Regions from separate parts of the Homo sapiens genome. Here region 1 is linked to region 2. Evidence: fine-mapped expression QTL. Tissue or cell type: whole blood. Region 2 holds a variant in brackets; the other region holds the start of a gene. All regions are shown on one strand. Distances are between the middles of the regions. Region 1 holds the start of TG (thyroglobulin). Region 2 overlaps PHF20L1 (PHD finger protein 20 like 1).

Region 1 (5,000 bases), 38 kb before region 2:
CACCTGTCCAGCCTGCCAGCCCCAAAACAAGTGACCCACCCTGGAGTGCAGGGCTTCAGCCACATCCACCAAGTGTCCTCAGGCATTATGAGGCTGCAGAGGGTAAAGGCAGTGCCCACATTGTATGGATAGGGAGTGGGGGCTTGGGGGTGGGATGTTAGTGGGATCAGGGGCCAGCAGGGTATATTGGGAAGCACATGGGTGGGGTCAGGCCAGGCCATAGAGTTGACTCCCCAGAAATGATGACTGAACTGAGACCTGCAGGATGGTCAGAGGTATAAGAAGGTAAAAGATATTCCAGGTAAAGGGAACAGCATATGCAAAGCCTCCTGAAGAGAGGCCAGGTTTGAAACTGCAAGAGGCCAGAACAAGAGAGTTGGGAATGGGAATATAAATAAGGCTGGTGAAAGTGAGACTTCCTCCTTAACTCCTTCCTTGCTGTTCCAGAATTCCCAGTGATCTAAGCAGGGACTGCTCTAGCAGCATCTCTGCACACTCGTGGGAGGTTAGGCACATTAAGAGTGTACATAAGATAGCAGCAGGGAGGGAGGTTTCACAGACATTTCCCAGAACGCAGTTATATAAATGGAGTTCCCCTGATTCAACATGACTGGAATAGCACAAGGAAATTTCAATGCATGCACATTGCAAAGGATTCCTGTCTATTCTGCAGGGAAGAATTGTCTAGATTATTACCACACTCTCCACAGAGAGGGTCTCAGGCCCCAAGTCTGCATTAGGGCAGCTGGAGAAACCCCTTTCAGAGAGCAGCTCAATGTGGAGACAGCGACCCAGAAGCCCAGAGGCAGCCTAGAGAGCTAGTCCGGGCAGGGTCGGTGGCAGCTAAGGACTAGGAAGTCAAGGCAGCCTCTGCTTCCACCACCCCAGCTTCTCAAGAGGATACTTGGAGGAGGGAGAGGTCCCAAAGCACAGATCATTTGACACTCTCCTCAACCTGCCCCACTCCCCACACGTGCCGTTTATTCAAGCCATCACAGAAAAAGTGATGGCAAGAAGAGAAGGGAGGGCAGTGGGAGGATGAAGCATGGATTGGGGTTCACTTGGTCAGATTGTCCAGTGTTGAACAGCTTGGGGAACTGAAAGGCAGGCACCTCCAAATGACAGTGGAACTGAAAGGCAGGCACCTCCAAATGACAGTGGCCAAGCCTCACATGCACAAAGGAGTTGCAGGGCAGAGCTCAGGAAGAGGGGGGAAGGCACAAGATGCTTTTTATGGCATCTTGGACCTTGAGAGTTCGCTGCTGACATAAGCCTTACTGGAAGCTGCCATCCTCTGCACACTGGGGCACGTAGTCTGCTTGCTTCAGAAAGGCCGTTTCCCTCTGCAGCTCACAGGGACGAAGGGGCTGGGCATCCACCTGGTACTCTAGGAAAAGAAAAGTGGTTCATCAAAGAAGAGTGTGGACTGGGCTGCCAGGACAGAGACGGGCTCTCATAAGCACAGATGCTTTTCCAGGGTCATCATCATTACCTATGACAGCCTATTTTAAAATTTGGCAGCTAAGCACACTTTCTTACAAGTATGACATTAGCTCATTTAATGTGCAACATTCTCCTAAGAGGTGACAGGCAATATATCCTTGTCACTCATGAGGCACCAAGTCTCAGGCAGCGAAAGTCGTCTGCCCAAAGTCACGTAACTGGCAAGTGAAGGATCCCAAAATCAACGCTGGGACTACACGTTCCCCGCCCGCCCCCACCCTGCCGCAATTCCCATGAGGCTATTTGGAGTAAGTTAGAGAACCGTAAGGAAGTTCTTCTTGAATCTATCAAGCCATGCCCTGCAGATGTAACATGTTCCAGATAAACATTGAAATACCAATTAATTAATAATGTACATGACTTATTTTTCCATTGAGAACTCTTGTAACACATAGGGTCCTACCCAGAAATCACAACCGCATCATGAGGTGTGTGTTATTTGTTTACTTTTTAAATGAAAAAAAAAAAAAAAAAACAGAAGCTTGGCACTTTGCCCGAAGTCATATGGGTAAGTGGCTGAGCCAAAGACAGAACTTAGGGCTATTTCACTTCATAGGTAGATTTCTTTTTCTACTGCTTCTAAAATACCTGTTATGGATGACACAGACTTTGGAATAGCTAAGGGGATAAAAACCCAAGGTCAATGCCAAAAGTTTGCCAAAATGGTGGGGTGAGGAGGACCTAGAATTGAATTAGGAAGATCAACCACATTTCCCATTTCTGCTCCATCAATCACTAGCTCTGTGACCTCAAGTAATTCAGTTCGGCTCTCTAAATCTGCCTCTTCATCTGAAAAAAAAAAAGCAAATCACTGACATGTGGGAATTTGTGAAGATTAAATTAGATCGCACCTGTTCGAAGGCCCAGGGCAGAGCCTGGCTGACACTGGAGCTCCCTCCCCACCGCCTGGCTCCATGGCCTCAGAACTTACCGAAGATATTGGCCGACACCCAGCAGATGGAGGCCAGCAGGGTGAAGATCTCCAGGACCAGGGCCATTTTCCTGGCCCTTCCTGGGAGGAAGGAGGAGAAACCACTGCTTGCCCTAGGTCCCCTGGCCAGGGAGCTTTTATAGAGCTGCCGTTGGCACTTTCCTTCCCACCCCCAGGTCCTCAGTGAGGCAGTGCCCCATCCTGTTTTCTCTGCTGGTCAAAAGGAGCTCCCTCCACCTGTGTCTACTCCTCCTGAGGGCACTCGTGTGGCCAGTGGAGCATGAGGATCTTGTCTAAACTGTGGGGGAACAGAACGGGGTGGGGTGACTTCAAAATCCTTTTTTATGGGTAAAGACCAAAGCTCTGTATCTTTGGAGGGAACAGGCTCAAGCCCACAGTGAGGGAAAAGCAATCCTTTGTTCTTTCCTTCCCCACCCTACCCTTTCTCCTTCTCCTTCCTCCTTCCTTCTTTCCTTTCTTCCTTTCTTTCTTCTTTCCTTCCTTTCTCCCTTCTATCCTTCTTTCCTTTCATTCTTCCTTCTTTCTTTCCTTCCTTCCCTCTTTCTTTTCTTTCTTCCTTCTTTCCTTCCTTCCTTCTTTTCTTTCTTCTATTCTTTCTCTAACAACCTCTTAGAGCTCCACAGTAGCAGGCACCTAATCTAGACAATGAGGATATGGCAGAGAACAAAACAGGCAAAATCGTGCCCTCATTAATATAGACTGTGAAAACTTTGGTGAGGGAAGCAAAATACACACACACTCATATTCATATTTCTATTACTTTCCTCTCTTTCCTAGGACCTCAGACTTTGTCAACCAAAAGATAGCAGGAACTGTGTATTCCACAGAAAGCCTGTATGTCCATTTGGTTTCTCCTGGCAAACATGGCTTCCTTCCTTCAGTCCTGTTCCTGTGAGACCTGGAAAAACTCACCTCATCTCCCTGAGCCCCAGCCTCCTTCTCTGGAAAGCAAAGTTAAAAGGAGAATAATAATATGTCCCTATTTGTTAAGGTAGTTGTAAGAGAATAGACATTGAAGAGCACATGCTTATTAGACACTAGCAGTTATTATTATTATTATTGATTTTCTTATTTTGCAAAAGCATCATGCCAGGGAATGGCAAGTATTCAGAAGACCAATCCAGCCAGGTAAGGAGCTAGTGACAGATAGGGTCAGGAACTGGCAGGTAATGAGGGCAGGTTGCTGAGCCTGGCACCTGAGGAGAGATGGAGGGACCTGTGAGAATCTGGAGGATATGGTCCCGGGTAGAGTGAAGGGCAGGAGGACAAGCTGGAAAGTGGAAGAGACTCCAAACCCTGGGGAAAATAAAGGGGCCGATATAGCTGCCGTGCCGTAGACTGTACTACCTTCCACAAATAGGGTTGCTATGAATATTAAATGTGTTAAAATATGCAAAGTGCTTAAAACAGTATTTGACACATAATAAGTATCCAGTGTTAGCTACTGTACTAGTCTGCTATGGGTGTCATCACAAACTATCACAGACTGGGTGGCTTAAGTAACAGAAATTTATTTTCTCATAGTTCTGAAGGCTGGAAATCCAAGATCAAAGTGTCAGCACTGTTGGTTTCTTTGGAGACTCCTCTCCTGGGCTTGCAGATGGCCATCTCCTCCCTGTATCCTCACTTGGTCTTCCCTGTGTGTGTTTGTGTCTTAATATTTATTTCTTTTAAGTACACCAGTCATATTGGATTAGAGCCCATCCTTGTGACCTCATTGTGCACTTAATTACCTCTTTAAAGACCCTACCTTCAAATGCGGTCACATTCTGAGGTCCTGGTTTTAGGACTTCAGCATATGGATTTGGGGGGAGAACACAATTCAGTCCATAACAGCTACTGTCATCATTGTTGGGTTCCTGATATAAACTAGAGAAAGTAAAACACAACAGTCATTTGAAGTGTCAGGGTATGGGATTAAAAACAGGGGAGAACCCGTGCTCTGCCCGTCCTTCTTGGGGACCACACATGCCTGGAACTCCCACATCTCTCTCTAGCTCAGTCTCCAGCCAGACTTTTTTGAGCTCAGATCCACTCTGCCTGGACACCCTACAGGTATTTCAAATTCAACATATCCCAACCTGAACTCCTCAACCTTTCTCCTGACATCACCCCATTGGCTGTCTCTGTGATAGTAAATCCGAGCCCCATCCTAGGCTTCTCCCCTCAAGTCTTACCAGCCTCCAGGTCCTACCAGGCTGCTGCTCATTTCTACTTCCTTGGTCCTCCCCTCCTCTGCATCCTCACTCTTCCTGCCTCCGTCACATCCCTACAGCTCAGAACGAGCCAGCCAGAACAGCCTGCTGTACTGCTCCTCACCAGGGCTTCCCCACCAGCTGCAGGAACAGTCCTCTAAAATATGGCCATCCATGTCACTTTGTAGATTCTACAAAAAGAGTGTTTGGATCCTGGTGAATCAAAACACTGTTTCCATTCTGTGATATTAAACAGCACATCACAAGGCTGTTTTCACGGGTGGGGATGGAGACTCAGCCAACAGATGCTCAGGAGGTGCCGTGGCAGGAAGATCAATTCACCCTGGGGA
Region 2 (5,528 bases):
CCTGTACATGTACCCCAGAACTTATTCGGTTGGTGCAAAAGTAATTGAGGTACTTTTGTACCAACCTAATAAAAGTTGAAGAGGAAAAAAAAAAGATATGCAAGATGGAAATTCACCTTTTTTCTTCCCCACAATTCGTAAAGAGGTTCTCCTGATGTCTGGCACACCAATTATACAGTGATAATCTGATCAATAAATTTTTCAAGTAATAAATCTCTGAAGGTAATTAACTAGTCCTGGAAGAACTCTGTAAAAATTCTGTTTTTCTCAGTTTTGTAATGAGTCCCACAGATGTGTGCAAGGGGAGAGGCCATATGCAGCTTACTGGAGAGTTGAGGGTATAGTAAGGGAAGGAAAAAAGGAGGTGGGGGTGTGATTCCAGGCATGTGGGAAGGCTCTGAAGCTGAAGAGTGCATGCCACATTTGGCAAGCTGTAAGACTGGCTGGAACACAGTGAATAAGGGAGAAACAAAGCTAGAGTGACAGGAGCCAGATTAGCTTTTTTTAAAAAGTTTTACCCTAATGCAATAAAAAGTCATTCAATGCTTATGTGGAGGAGGAGCAAGATGTGACAGTTTCATTTCCAGAGGATCACTCTAGCTGTGGAATGGAGGATGGAATGCAGGAAGGCACACATAGAAGTGGGGGGACAGTTCAGAGGCTACAGCAGTAGTCCAGGAAAGAAATGTTGGTGGCTCAGAACTTGGGTGATGGCAAATAAGGGGAAGATTTTAAGGAAGATGGAGTGCTGTTATAGACTGGAGGCCGAGAGCTAAGACGGCATTATCAAGATTGATTTCCAGGTTTATGCGTGAGCAACAAGGCAACAAAAGTGGGTATGAGATGGGGCTGAAGAGTAAATGCAAGGTGGAGAAACCAGAGAAGAAACAGAAGTTTAGAAGAGGGCTCTGTAAGATGGGAAATCTTACACATTACCTACATGAACCTTAAGATGTGGGAAAGGGGGATGGCAGTGGTGAGAAATGCTAGATTAAGAAAAGCAGACATTCCCTCCATTTTAATAGAGGCTAAGATGATGAATATTTTCATGTAAGCATGCAGATGTGGTAGATAGAGTATGAGCAAGTTCCCACCTGATGATGTCTGTCTTCTCAACTCTGTGAGGAAAAGGATGTCAAGTGACGCAGGTTAGGGAATACATGAGAGGTGGAAATGAGAGATGGAAACGAGTGGGAAAAAGGAAAGACAGAGAGTGGAAAAGTGAGCTTATAAGAGACGCATTGGTCTGTGCTAAGTATCCATTTGAAGGTGGCAGCTGTGGGAGACAGAATAGTCTGCCAAAAATGTCTATGTCCTAAACCCTAGAACTTTTAAATAAGCTAAGCTATGTGGAAAAGTGGAATTAAGGTTGCTAATCGGCTGACCTCACAACAGGGAGAGTATCCTGGATCATATGGGTGGGCCCAATGTAATGGCAAGGGTCCTTAAAAGTGAAAGGATGGAGGCAGAAGAGATGACGTGAGAGTGAAACAAGATGAGAAAGACTGGACCACTGCTGACTTTGAAGATGGGAGCAGGACAAGAGCCAAGCAATGCAGAAGCCTCTGGAAACTAGAAGAGGCAAGAAAACAGACTGTCCCTAAGAGCCTCCAGAGAAAAATGGAGCCCTGTTGATACCTTGGTTTTAACCTAGAGAGACCCATTTTGGACTCCTGACCTCCAGAACTTTAAGATAATAAATACATATTTTTTTAAACCACTGATGTGCAGTAATTTGCAACAGCAGCAATGGGAAACTTACACTCATCATCATAAATACCACGGCACAACCAACACTGATTGAGGGCTCTCTATGTGCCAAATGCAATTTTCAGTTCTTTATGTGTATTAACTCTTTTAATCCTCACAAGCATCTAATGAGGGAAGTAGGACTGCTAGTAAAGAATTGAGGCAAGACAGATGAAGCAAATTGCCCAAGAATATACAACTATCAATAGCAAAGCCAACATTCAAACCCAGGCAGCCTGACTATGGAAGCTACACTCTTAACAAATAAGTGATATCGGTGTATTTCAACATTTAAAGGGTGCACAAGCTGGCAAGCTTGTTAAACCCCAGATTCCTGGGCCTCATCTCCAGTGCACTGGGAATGAAACACTCCCAGATGATGCTGATGCTGTCAGATTACAGCAGTCTTTGGGCAGCACTACGCTATTCTGACTCCAGTGGCCTCACCATAACCACAGTTTGCCCAACACCATATTACTTAGGCCCAGACATGGAAAGGACATTTATTAAATGCCAGGTACTGTATCAAGTACTTTACAATGATTACTTTATTTAATTCGAATAATAAATCTATGCAATAAAACTATC[A/G]ATTACCATTTATTTTAGAAGAAAGGAAACTGGGATGTAGAGAATTTAAATAACCTGTCAAAGGTCGCTTAGCTGTAAGTGTTACGGGCAGGATTTGAATACCTATACTAAACCTTCAAGGCTGCCTTCTTATCAACTCCATTATATATTGTCCTTTCAGCAAAAGTAAAAGTAGAAGCAGAATCTGATTGTAAAAACAATGAAAGAAATCTCAATTTTGTACTAAAATAAAACATGGCTGATATTTAATAGGTAAAACTTGGCATTCCGCACCCTGTCTGTATTCCCCACTTCAATTCCCTCTGGCTATTATGAATAAAAGTCTGTTATGTTTCAAGGCTTAGATCAGAAGTAGTCTCCTACATAAAGTCCCTTCCTTGATCATACCAACTTTTCTAGCTTAAATATTTATTTTGTACCACTCTTACCACAAATATCAGACCTTCCTGGTAGAGATTTATGTATGCTTATCTCTCTTACCATATACTTCAATGACTTACAAGCTCCTCGAAGGAATCTTTTTTACTATGCAATGCTTTCAATTCTCTTTTCACTTCTAACTCTATTTCTTTTTAATCTCTGTATGCCTGCAGTATCCTTATATTTACAGACACATGAAAGACAGATGAAGTGATTTGCTCAAAGTAACAAAGCTAAAAACTGGCAAAGATGACACTCTTAAATCCCAACATGGTGACTTCTCATACACACAAATTAAACACAATGTTAGTATTATGTCTTGTAAACCAATTATGTTAATCAAAACATATCTTAACCTACTACCTCATAAAATAATAAAAAACAACTAATCTAAATTACTTTGCATAACTGCATTAAAATAACAGGGACAAGAACTTAGTATGCCAATAAAAACAAGTAAAAACTTGTTGAAGAGAAGAATACACAGTTTGATAAACAGTATTTCAGGTATTAATAACATAGCATGGTGATTAGAGTTAAAAATTCAGACTTGTAAGTCAGACTGCTTGGATTTGAAATGAATCTGCTTTTCACCACTAGCTAGCTATGAGAGCTGGAGAGCTCTCTTTCTCACTCTCTCTCAGTTAACTGTTGGTAAAATGTAGATAACAGATCCTATTGTAAAGGGTTAATATGAGGATTAAATGAAGTAATAATATTTATAAAATGCTTAGTTTTGGGTACATAAGTACCAGCAGGATATATAAAATAATGTTGAGTGGTAAATAAAAGAAAGAATTTTGAAACTCCCTCATGGTGCTAACTGTAGACTAAAAAACATACTAGAAGCCTCATACAGTAATAATGTCAATTCTTTAACATTAAGATGTCTTTAAAATTTCAAAGTTACTTCAAATCCTGTATTTCCCACTTAAAGACCACTCTTCTAATTTAACCATCTGGGGAAAAGTGCCATTTCTAAGATAAAGTAAATAGCTCAGAATAAATTCTCCTCAAATGCAACAATTAATTACAAAGATGACAGTGATTATCAAACTCAACACCTGCTGTTTATAAACAGCAATGTTTCTGTGCATCTTACTAGGACTCTATTTACAAAGTTAAGATTTTCATTTGTAAGCCTGATTTCAAAATGTAAACAAATATATAAGGTTTTCTTTTTCATTAAAAAATAAAAATATATACCATTTAAAGTACGTTTTAATGGCTCTTTGTAAAGGGTTCCATAGTTAATGGCTGGTCACAATTCTAAGGTGAGGTTTTTTTGGCCATTTTTCCTCTATTAATCCTAATTGCTCCTCCTTCTCTCAAGTTACAATTTCCTGCCTTCTCTTAAGCTCTAGCCCTCATATTTTGCTACCAAGTGTGGGCCCCTTCTTATTTTGTTTTGTATCAGCTGCTGTTATCTTTTTCCCCACTTTCACAGGTATTTTGTATGTAAGATTCTGTGTCTGCTACTAAATATCAGAACAGAACACAGTTTGTTGCTGTGCCGTAAGATAACCCTGAAATAGCTGGCCATTCCTGCACTGACAATGCAGGTCTCCATTGGAACACCTAAGCTAGGCAAATCCCCTCAGAGCCTTTGGTCAGGTGGGAGTTCATCTGGAAGTTTTATTTGCAGCCTGAGCTTCTCATTTCTGTATTGTGACATACCACTCACAGAAGGGTATTCGGTAATCAAATGAGTTCACAGTGAATAGTTTTTGTTTACCAAACTCCGGAGTTTCCTACCTCTACATCATTTCTAGCTTGAATTCCACAGTTACATATGAAGAGGTGATGGGGGGGTGGGCAGGAGGGAAAGGAGTGAGGCGCAAGGCACACACAGAAGTGCCCGGAAATGTTCAAGACTCTCTGGAAAGCCGTTTCAAGCTTTGAACCCCATTTTGATCCTGTATCTTCAAATTTACTCTGGCAGCTTTAGAATTCGAGAATGTGAAAATTTCACATTCTGTGGGAAAATTAAATGTTATTTTTGGACTATGGAGAGAGCTAAAATCTGAAGAATTTACCAACAATGATTACCAACCACAAAACTGCCCGGTTGGATTTGTATTTTTTAAAACTGGTTTTATTAAATATCTAATAAATATGAAAAAAATGGGTATGACACAAAGAATATCAATAGCACAAAACACTTAGGTACTGATCATACAGTTTAAGAGAGTATCATCATTTTTGAAGGTCCCTTTGCACCATTTTCCAGTTTGAACTGATAATGGCCCTTCCCCACCTTAGAGGCAACCACTGTCTTGAATTTTTGTTCATCATTCTCTAGTTTTTCTTTATGCTTTTCCCACACACAGTTGAATCTCTTAAAAATACACTGTTTAGTTTTAAAACTTTTTTATCTTTATATAAGTGAAATATTATGTTTTCTTCAGTTACTTGGTTTTTAGCTTACCATTTTGTTCCTGAGATTCTGTAGCTGTAATTCATTTATTTATTCCACTGAAGGAATGCATGACTTTTGATGGAGAGCTGGGCTGCTCCCAGTGCTGCTGTGAACACTCTCATATTTGATGCACCGTGTGAGTTTCCTCACGGGTTTTTAGGCCACTTGGCGCACACATCGTCACCTTACTCCCTGGTCCCCATCTGTTTCCCACAGTAGTTGTGTAGTTGCCTTCATTTCCTCAGCAGCATCTGCTATTACCTATCTGGTTAGTTGTGCCAATACAGCACGTCTGAAACAGACTTCACTATGTTTTAACAATTGCGTTTCATCTAATTTTCTGATACAATTT

Evidence for each region. PIP is the estimated chance that this variant, and not a neighbour inherited with it, causes the effect.
Region 1: it holds the start of TG, and the variant in region 2 is the best candidate, but not a certain one, in a credible set for the expression of TG in whole blood (TOPMed, PIP 0.62).

What each region holds. Positions count from the first base shown.
Region 1 is chr8:132,864,502-132,869,501 of GRCh38, reverse strand. TG (thyroglobulin) reads right to left here and starts at 2,544. Exons shown (of 48, transcript NM_003235.5): 1 at 2,435-2,544; 2 at 1,279-1,387. The coding sequence starts at 2,501.
Region 2 is chr8:132,826,201-132,831,728 of GRCh38, reverse strand. All of the region lies in intron 14 of PHF20L1 (PHD finger protein 20 like 1), which reads right to left. Among named protein-coding and RNA genes, the nearest start is that of TG, 38 kb to the left of the region's middle. The variant A/G (reference allele first, on the strand shown) is at 2,338.